Linked DNA regions of Homo sapiens: region 2 is linked to region 1. The links come from fine-mapping of genetic effects on gene expression. Tissue or cell type: whole blood. Region 1 holds a variant in brackets; the other region holds the start of a gene. All regions are shown on one strand. Distances are from middle to middle.

Region 1 (5,379 bases):
CTTCTTACTCTGGTTCAGTAACAGGGCTCCCATTTGGAAACTGGTACGAAGGCCCCAGTTGCCTACCCAGAAACAGCCTCAGGTGTTGCATGGGCAAACCTTACCCTTTGCCTCATGTGGGTGAGCCTATTTGAGAACATCTTAATAAAACGTTTCCTGATCACTATGGACAAAGGGATTTTTATTGTTGGGGTGGCCCAATATTTTCATGCCCCCGGATTCCCCCATTATTGTTTCCCTTTCTCTGATTCCTTGTCCACCATCTGCTCCTCTCTCATGGCTGTGTGTTTCTTCTTTAACGGTTGGGGATCAGGTTAGCAGCTGCAGGAGAACTTGATTAGTGCCTTGCCTCTGTGCAGAAGCATTTCCCTGACAGCATTGATCCTGGTTTCGCTTTGCAGGCAGCTCCACAGAGAGGCTTGTGCTGCAATGGAGGTGGACTGTTGTCTGGTCAATGTGAGTTTGGGGCAGTCTACTAATTCATTCCTCTTTGCTCAGCTGTTAATTTTGCTTAAATAAGAGCTGCCTGCAAGTTTTCATTTAAAATCCACTGCCTGACTGAGACCTTGTGATGGCAAGATTCAAAGACAATTTTTATTGCTAAGTTATTAGTCCTTTGAAAGAAGGAAAATTTGATGTTTAATATTTAAACAGTTTCTATTTTGCAAAATTCTTTGATATCTGAATGTTAACTGTGTAACCATTTAAGGTCCATTTCCACAGACTTTTCCAGACATTTCAAGCATACAGGAATTTATTTGTAATGTTCCTGCATGAAAAATTGCCATCTCTTTTCTGCCATGGTGGCCACTGCCAACAGATATGTCCATTACGAATGAAATAAAGAGGCACTTTATATTTTGATGCATTTCAATTTGTCCATTACACCAGACTGTTCTTTTCTTGAGGAAAGGAACAAATTCCTTTCATCTTTAAAATGTTACCACTTTTTCAAGTTTTGGAAAATTTAACAGAATTTAGCACAGGGAAATTGCATTGTCTCTGGGCAAAGAGAATAACTGAGCATTTTCATTTCAGTTTTTTTCTTGATTTTTGGTTTGATGTTCAGGAGTCATTAAAAAAACTAGCATAAATGTGTTCAGGTGTAGCCCTGACTAAGGGTTCATTTCTCTATGTATTTTAATGATGGTCTTTTAGGACATCCCCACTTTTTTGGAGCTGGTGTTTCCCTTAACCAAAATGTTCCATCTCCAAAATACTGCACATGATAATTTAAAGGCATACTCTATTACCTGTACAAAATTGAACTCAATTACTCTCCAGCCCAAAACAAACTGTTCAACTTTTCCTTTTTGTAGTAGCCATAATTCCTACAAGTTTGTGCCATACCAATATAAGAAAGTGAATTCACAAGCTTCCAGTGGAGTACAATACAAATCTTCAGGTACAACACTAAAGTGTGGTACTAGGAAGAGAAGCCAAAGTCCACTGTGGTTCAAATTAACAAATTCATTCATGAATGCTAATTATGAATTAAACTGTAGATTAAAAAGAATAAAACAAAACAACTTTCTTCCATAAATTGTGTACATTTGTGTAGAAAAAGAGGCAGCCTAATATGGTGGAAACTAATCAGGTAGAAACCTAAGCTTTCGTCTTTAGTTTACTTTGCCAAATGACCTTGGGCAAATCATCCAACCAGTTGGTCATAGTTTCCTTAAGTATAAAATAGGGATAAATTATTCCAGATCAAAGATTATATGAAAACATTCCCAAAACTATAAAGCCACATTTATATATTTTTGGTTTATGGTTGGAGACGTATTTGAAGTGTCTGCATTACTCAGAGCCCCTTTCTCCAGAAACTGCCCTTACCTGTAACCTTTGCTAAAGTGGTAGGCATAGCAGTCAAGTTTGTGCCACCCTCGCTAGTGACACTGGTGAACTAGGGATGGACACCTGAGCAAGGACACTCAATAGCAGTGGGGACTCAGATCTTCTCTTGAAATTAAAGAGACTTAAGAGTTTCCTCAGACAGTAATATGCTGATCATAAGAAATTGAGAACTATGGTAGCCATGTGCAACCATGAGCATGCTGATGAGCAGGCGGAAGGCAATGGAGAATGGAGCAGAGGTACAGAGAGGAGCAATAAGAGAAGAAGCAGATTTCCAGAAAAAAGGAAAAAGTGCCATAGGGTGGCAGGGGAGACAAAGGAAGTACCTTAGTTCTAGGTCCGGTCCTTAATCCAGCCCATGGACTATACAACGATTTTTTTTTTTTCCTAGGATGGCCAGAAGA[T/C]GGCCCATTTTAACCTCACAATAAACTCCCTTGGAATGACTCTTCCTCGTAACCAATAGAGCTAAAACAATAATACCACAATTGGAAAGGTCGTTACCAAGACCACTGCAGATTTTATTGTACAAAAAGCAGAAGTTTCCAACTGTCCTTTGTAGCTACCAGGATGAAACTCTTTCCAGATATGCTTTTCCAGATGTAAAATGCAGATGGGACCATAGACAACTGAGGAACAGGCCCACTTTGCAGCACATAGGTTTACTAAGTAGGTTTGAAAATGTACTTCAAACAATATGAGATGTTTTCCTCCAAAGGAATTATCTCCCTCTGAGTCCCCCTATATAACGTTTCAGAAGCCACAGAAAGCAGCACACTATAGTTGGAAACACCGTACACTTTAGAGTTAGACCCAAATTAAAGTTCTGGCTCTTCTAAATATGAACTCTGGACTTGGACAAGTTATTTAACCTCTCTTTCAGTTTTCTCATCTATACATGAAGAGTAACAATATTTCCTTTCCAGTTTGTTGTAAGGAATAAATGAGTTAATTTATGAAAAAAGCTTGGCACATATTAGGTACTCAACAAATGTTAATCTTCTCCTTCCTCTGACTCACTATGTGAGTCCTATTACTTTACAGCCCATCACTGAATTTCACTCCAAATCAATAAGCATGATTTGGAAGAAAACAGAAATCTCTTTTTGACTTCTTGACCGAGTCAGCCAGAAAGTCTCCTACTACACAGGCTTTAAATAGCTGTCTTGGTCCATTCGGGCTGCTATAAGAAAATATCATAGACTGGGTGGCTTATAAACAAGAGAAATTTATTTCTCACAGCTCTGGAGGCTGAGAAGTCCAAGATCAAGGCGCTGGCAGATTTGCTGCCTGGTACGGGCCTGCTTCCTCTTAGATGGCGCCTTCTCTCTGTGTCCTCACATGGTGGAAGGGGAGAATAAGCTTTTTGGGGCTTCTTTTATAAGGGCACTAATCCCACACATAAGAGCTCTGATCTTTCGACTTAATCACCCTACAAAGACTCTACCTCCTAATACAATCACCTTGGGGGTTAGGATTTCAACACGTGAATTTTGTGGAGATGCGAACATTCAGACCATAGCAGATTAGAATTGAAAAGAGCACCACAAAGGCCTGCTTCCATTCAGATATGCATATTTTGGTCAACAGATCACTTTCTCAGTGAAGTAACATCCGATGCTAATACACGTCCAAGCCCGTGTGTGCTTGTATCTACATGTACTAATAGCACACAGCCAACAGAGTGGCTTTTTTCACCAAATAGATTCAAGATTGACTTGTTAAGCATATCTGCTCATTTGCATGAAGAAAGCTAGAATGCTTCACATACTGGGCACACTACTTCAATCTTCAGCTATAAAATCCATTAGGCTCCATAAGTTATTATTTTGCTTAAAAGAGGAATATTCTTGACAAGGAAATCCTAGGAGAAATGCACTGCATGATGCCACAGGAAATGATTTCTGGAGGACTGCAATGAGTCCAGCCAAATCACTTCAGACATCTCCACAGCCTGTCAGTCCACGTAACACTACAGGAAAACACATGCGTTCATTAAAATGTCTGATTTCGTACATGCTAGATATAGCAAAGAATCTGCTGGAAGCTGGACTTCGGTAGATATGACTAGTTTGCACCTTAAGGATTTAGATTGCATATTCTCAACTGAGGAGCACGAAAAGAAAAGAAGGCAAGGGGATCATGCTCTACTAGCTACACACAAGCAGAATTAGTCCTGAAGCAACCTGAGGAAAACATACAAGAATCATGAAACCCTAAAGGGGAAGATCCAGACTCTCTCCACCCATCCATGTCTAGTCCTGGTACCAGCCCAAATTACCTTGCAGCAGACACAAAATACAGAGAAATATTTATATCCTAAAAGAAGAGTTTTATTAAAAAAGAGTCAAAATACTAACTATACCCTAATACATTATATTCTTATGTTAATGTTCTTTTGTGGTTATGAAAAACCATAGCTCCATAAAGAATAGGAACAATGCACTTCCATTTATATTATTATTCTTACACTGTGCACATTACATGCTAATTCAACATTTGTAAGAGAGATATCAACAGTGACAAATCAAGTTTCATCAGGTTAAATTGAGGATTTTGATAGTACCAAAATTAATAAGTCATAATCCACCAATCCATAGTTTTATACCAGCCTCTGTCTATTTAAGGTCAATTTGGAAAAGTTTTCAAGCAACTACTCTAAACCTAACCCCCTTTTTCATTTTGTTATTTGGTTAGTGTTTAACTAAATAAGTTTATAATATAAGCATTAAGACTATCTAAAAAAGCATCCCCCCAGCACCCCCCCAAGAAAACCCACACTAATTTAGGTTAAAAACAAAGTAATGGCAGCAAAAGTGTCTTTAAGTTTTGCAATAATCCTTCCAGTACTTTTGCATCCCAAAAGGCTCCAGATGTGACCAGCCACTGCAAAATGGTAAGTTGTTTATCAGCATTCTACAATGGGAACTGGCACCTGTAATTTTACTCTTATTTTGCATCAGCATTATTAAAACACGTAAAAAAAATGACCAAGTGAGGGTTTTGTGTAATCACACGTACACCTTCAGGGTGAAATGCTCTGTTGGCTGTCTGTTGTCCTGAAGGTGACGGCTATACCAAGCAGCTTCCTTCTCTGTTGTCTGTGTGTAGCTGCTATGAGCCTCCTTCTATAGGGAGTTTCTGCTGGTAGCAGTGACTGGAAAATAATGTGGAAATGTTGTTCTCACAGCCTGTAAAGAACCGACTGTTGATCACTTTTGATAATGCAAAGGATTACAGTGCTTTTCTTTTTCATTCATTTTTTTCTTGTTTTCATTTTTCTTTCTTTCTCCCTGTTGGTTGCTAATAGTCATCTGTAATTAGAAAGAGGCCCCTTGTCCGCCTCAGTCTGGAGTGAAGGTTTAAGAAATAAACATATTTGAATCATGTGATGACAATTAACCACTTTGTTAAGCCATAGATCCCACTTCACCCTTACCACCTCCTCTTAACCCGGAGCTATGTTCCATCCTGCCTAAGGTTTTCCTCACTGCTTCAGCCTGCTCCCAACTTTCCAGTTGTTTA
Region 2 (5,379 bases), 35 kb before region 1:
ACCAGTCAAGAATTCCTGCTGCCAATTGAAATGAATGGAAGAAATATATTTAAATCAAATAGCACCATCTAGCAGAACCCTGATCTGCTCACGAGAGTAGATATTACTTGGTGTTCAGTTTGGTAGATTTGACAGCAAAGTGGCAATTATTTGTTTTCCTGGTGGGAAATCACAGAATTAGAGCTAGAAAGGACCACAGTTATGCAAGTTCCAACATCCTTGTTATTATCTGAGAAACTAAAAAAAAAAATCAAGCAGTCCTCAGGATACTGAGTGGGATTCAACTAAAGTTCACCCCTTCCTGGAAGTTCACCTAAAATCTAAAATTACTTTGATTCTCAAATTCAGTCACCCCCAAAATAAGATCATGCCTCAATACATTTCAATCACTCTGACTAATGTGAAATTCAAATATTCTGTGATCATTAAAACATCCTCCTTCAGATGTTTTTATCAGGCACATTATAACAAAATGATTAATGCACACAAATGAGACTGCATTTCAAAACTTCAATTCTAGTAACTGCCGTTTCTTAACCAGGCTATAACGCTATGTCTTTTATATACTACTTGTCACAGCAACAAGATCCTGAATGCAGCTCAGAAAATATCTCTTGCAAAAAAACAAAAAAGCCTCTCTAATTTTTGTTTTGTTTTGTTTTGCTTTGCTACATCAAGGCCTGATACCTCTAAATCCTATGGGAATTGAGTGTGTTGCTGCCAACACAAAGATTAGGAAATGTTCCCATCCCTAGGGCACACAAAACTTTCAGGGGGAGACTAACTGCCTAAACCAAGGAGGGAAACTCAGTCGCCTGCGCATTCGGTTTTTATTTACGCAGCTATTTCTGTGCGCAAGGTAACCAAAGTACCTTTGAGAGATGCTCTCAGACTTTTTCTCTGGTCTGAACCCCCTCAGAAAGACAGGGTGCGTTCAACGACAAGGATAACTCTGACCCTCAGAGTTTAAGTGGTTACTGGGAATCACTGATCTGTTGCACAGTTTAAAAAAAAAAGGGGGGGGTTCTTCCTCAGTGATCACAGTCACTATTCGTTCTCATTTTTAGTAACAACCAAATCACCGTTACAAGTACACAAGAATAGCAGCAAACCGCTTTGCTTTGCAGTGTGCCGTGACAGTGGCATCCCGGGCCGGGAGGGGCTCTGTTCTCGCCAGCCGCCTCTTGGGCTCCCACCGAAGTTAACACCTGTATCTCCCCACAACTGTAACCAAGCGGCTCCTTCCCACCTGAACGCTTCTCCCCTCCCACAAACCCCTTTTCGGACCACTGGCCCTCCCCGCCACAGCTGCCCTCCTCGGGCGCCCCCGGCGGCTCCCACAACTCCCCTCCGCGCGCCCCCGACCACCGCCCCGCCGGGCCCGCCCCTCCCGCCGCTCGGGGGCTGCCAGCCTCACAAAAAGTTCGCCAGCCGCCGCCGCGGAGTTGGGTCCGCTGCGAGAGGCAGAAACGCCAGCCTCCTCCAGCGGATCCCGCTCCTCGCCAACACACTTTAGCTCCCCGGGAACTCGGTCCCTCTCCGACTCCCAAACTTCGGCGGCGTCTCCGGCGCCCACCCGCCCCCGCCCCCGCCCCAGCCCCAGCCCCAGCCCCGCGATGCGCGGGGGACTGCGGGCGCCGCGTCCGTAGCTGGCCCAGGAAAGCCCGGACGCCCAACCCGCACACGCCCTCCGCGCCCCGCGCGCGTCTCCGCGCCCCGCGGGGCCCCGCTCGGCCGCTCCACGCCCGGCTTCCGCCCGCCGCGCGCCCGGCACCGCCGCCCTCGCCTCGCCTCGCCCCGCGCTCGCGGCCCTAAGCCCCAGCGCCCAGGCCCCCGCCGCCGCGCTCCCCGCGCTGCCCGCCCCGACCCCGGCCCCGACCCCGGCCGGCCCGCCAAACACCCACATTCCCACTGCGCGCCTTCCTCCACGCAGCTGCCCCTCCCGCCACCCCCGGCGGCTCCCCAGGTCCCCGGAGCCCCGGACCCCAGCTCTAAAGTTACTTTGGAAGGTGAACCCGCGGGTTATTTCCCTCAATCACCCAAACAAGTTTCCATCCTCGCCACCAGCACCACCGCCGCCCCTCAACACACCCGGTCCCTCCCGCCGACAGCCCCCTGCGGCCGCCCGCCCAGCGCCCGCACCTCCCGGGAAAGCGCAGCTCCCCGCACCACACGCCCCCATCGCGGCACCCCTCCCCCTGCCAGCCCACCCCCGGCGCTCCCCGGGCGGAGAGTGTCTGTGTCTCCCAGAGTGTGCGAGTGCGTGCGTGAGTGTGCGCGCGTGTGAAGGCGGAGGTGGGTGAGAAGCGGAGACACTTACTTCTCCCGGGCCTGGCTGTCGGACGGGACGGCGCTGCTGTTACTCTTGCCTTTGCCGTACATGCTTGTGCCGAGAGCAGCTCCCACTGTCACGCACCTGTCAACCCATCACAGCCTCCCCGGGAACAGCCCCGTCCCCATGGCGACCCACGCAGCCACCCCCACTATTGGCCGCCCCACGCCAAAGCTCCGCCCCCTTCGCCCAGGCAACGCGCGAGACTGACAGGCCTCCCCCTCCCTCTGGCCTTCCGAAGCGCGCGGTGGCGGCTAAGCCTCAGCGGCAGTCTCCTCCCTCCTTCCCTCCCTCCCCGACTCCCTCCCTCCCGCCTTCCCTCTCCGCTCTCCTCCCTCCACCCGCTCTCCTTCCCCCTCCCCCCTCCGAACCCGGGCGCAAGGGGGGAATTAGAAACTGCTCTAGAAGGATTTTAAACAACTGGCTGTTCTCTCCGCCGCCACCCCTCCCCCCGCGCCGCCCGCGCTCAGCTCCTCACTGGAGAGAAGGCGCCGGGAGGAGGAGAAACTGCGGCCTGGAGTCTCCGGCCGGAGCCGGCGGAGCTGGAGCCGTGGCGGCCCCAGACTTCGGGGCGCCCGCCGAGTCCACGACAGAGCCACGGCCTCAGCCGCCCTGGGGCCCCCACCAGCCCCTCTCCCGCTCCTCTCCTATGCGTGACCCCGCGCCGGTACCCACGATTGATTTTTGCGGTCCTCAGCCCTACTCCCTGGGGTGTCGCCCCCGCCCTGTTCCCAGAGGGCCGGCTGGCGAGGGACACCCGCGCGGTTCCCTCGACCTTCTGGCTGAGCGACCGACAGCGACTCGCCTTCTCTCCTGGGGAAAGGCTGCACCTCCGGCCCTCGGCGCCGCTGCGGTGGCGGCGCCCGGGGCCGCGCCCTGCGCCCCAGGGGAGCACCCGGCCTGGGGTCGGCCTCCTCTGTAAGAGGTGAGCGGACCTCCCGAGGAGGCCCGGTGACTCCTGCGGCCGCAGCGGCCCCTGCCCCAACCCCTTCTTGCACGGAGCCCCGCGGCGCCCTGGACACCCCGCCAGATCTGCCGCAGAAGAGGGCCCCAGGCTTCCCCACCCGGCCTGGTTTAACAGTTTGGGTCAGTGATGCCTATTCATCCTGACCCCTGGAGTGGAAAAGGCCAGAAAAGGTCTTGAAAGACTTCCCTGTCCTTGCCCGTTAGAATAGGCCCCAGCGCGCTCCAAGGTGTACAAAGCTGTGCCAGGGCTGAAAGGCTGCCCGAGAATGTTTCTGTATCCAAATCCCTAATCCCATTTCAGTAAACGCGCAAAAGTTTCAGAAACACACACAATCTGGTTCCCAGTAGAACTCTGCATCATTTATCTTATTGAAGTCCTTGACTGTAAAATCAGACGGGTGCAAATGGGGTTAGAAAGAAGATGGGCTTCACACGGGGAAGAAGGGGACAGATGGGGTGGGACAGGGCGACATCTGGAAAGGATGAATAGACAAGAAGTAGCTATGGGAGGAGAGGGAAATCGGATTCGCGTGGAGGAAGGTACCGTTCTATTCCACACACACACAGCTTTAAGCATTTAGTAGGAGGATCATAAAATGCATATGGAGATATACAGATAGATGGAAAGGAAAGAAATGGGTGTGAGCATTGACAGAAGTGATAGGAATAAAACATCAACAGATGATTAAGGAAGGGCAGTTAGCAAAAGTGAGAGGTCGAGAATCAAAAACGCGGTTGGCAACCAGACATAAAGACGGGAAAATGAAGAGGAAGGACTTTCTATACTGGTGTTAATGACAAGGAAAAAAACATGAGGAAAGTGAGGTATAAAAAGATGAGAAGACTAGAAGATACAGGATTAAATGAAGAAGCCATAGAGTGTGATAGCAAAAGATTAAAAGTAATAGAGGACAGACATTATCGTTAAAAAAAAGATATAAGAAAAAAAGCACTTTTATTAAAAGGACAAAAATTAAGCCAATAAAGGAAATGAGGGGGGAAAAGTGGGGGAAAAAAATACACTGGCTTAAGTAGATTAATTTCCAAGAGATGTAATTTGCCATTTCTGACTTAAGAATTCTTCTGTCAGTTTCTAATGACCTACAGTTATTGGGTGGTTAGGATATGGCATTCATATTCTTCTTTTTGTTTCTAATGACCTGCAATGATTGGGTGATTGAAGCGAAGCTGAGCCAGTCAGCCTCTCTTAATGAACTTTTGCTCAAAATGCTCAAATGTGTATAAGGTTGCCACAGTTTACAGACTCAACTTCAAGGTTAGCATTATGTAATTTTTTTGTTCAATTATCTACTTCCATTGGCCTTAACCCAGAAAATTTTTAGTATATCAAGGCTCCATCTCTTATAGAATACTCCCTATAAAGGTGCTGCTCAGAGAATGCTGTCAGTTCTCAGAGAGCTCTGGCAGCTTCTCAGACACCCTCCTGCCTGCCCCTGGAAAAACGAACCAAGGGTGGGCTTTGTCCTACTATCCAAAAACAAAGTAGGTATTATCCTTGCACTGGTGTTGGGACTCTCTTAACTATGGTTCTCAATCATGGCACGTTAGAATTGCCTTTATTTTCATTGTTGTTGGGTTTTGTTTGTTTGTTTATATACTAACTGGATCAGAAACCTTGGGGATGGACCCAGGTACCTGCATTTTTTTCATAAGCTCCACGTGGTTCTTGTGTATAACCAGGGCTGCCTGCCTTTGCTCTTCAGTATCCATTTAAAGACAGCCAATGGGTACCATAAGAGATTAGTACAAGACTTTTAGGTTGGGCTGTCCATTAACAAATGACCCTACTCAAAGCATTAAGATGTCTTTACAGTGTACTTTACTTTCTGCCACCAAGCCAACAAACTTGTTAATAGGACAAAAATGTATGCCCATATGTGTTCTCATAGTACAAGATCATGAATAGCCATGGTTTAATTTGCTATTTCCTATAGAGAAAGGAAAATGAAGAAAGAGAACAGGAGAAACTGTTTGCTGTCTACTGCTATAATTTATTCATTTGATTGGTTTTTACCCAGATTTGTTACATTTGGAAGTCCTATGGGTAATGGCATATTTTC

The links. PIP is the estimated chance that this variant, and not a neighbour inherited with it, causes the effect.
Region 2: it holds the start of SSBP2, and the variant in region 1 is fine-mapped to the expression of SSBP2 in whole blood (TOPMed, PIP above 0.99).

Annotation. Positions count from the first base shown.
Region 1 is chr5:81,783,218-81,788,596 of GRCh38, forward strand. No RefSeq gene overlaps it. Among named protein-coding and RNA genes, the nearest start is that of SSBP2, 35 kb to the left of the region's middle. The variant T/C (reference allele first, on the strand shown) is at 2,262.
Region 2 is chr5:81,748,661-81,754,039 of GRCh38, forward strand. It overlaps SSBP2 (single stranded DNA binding protein 2), which reads right to left and starts at 2,437. Exons shown (of 17, transcript NM_001256732.3): 1 at 2,321-2,437. The coding sequence starts at 2,382. RefSeq lists silencers at 1,299-1,458, 1,679-1,728, 2,169-2,218, 2,389-2,718, 2,989-3,338.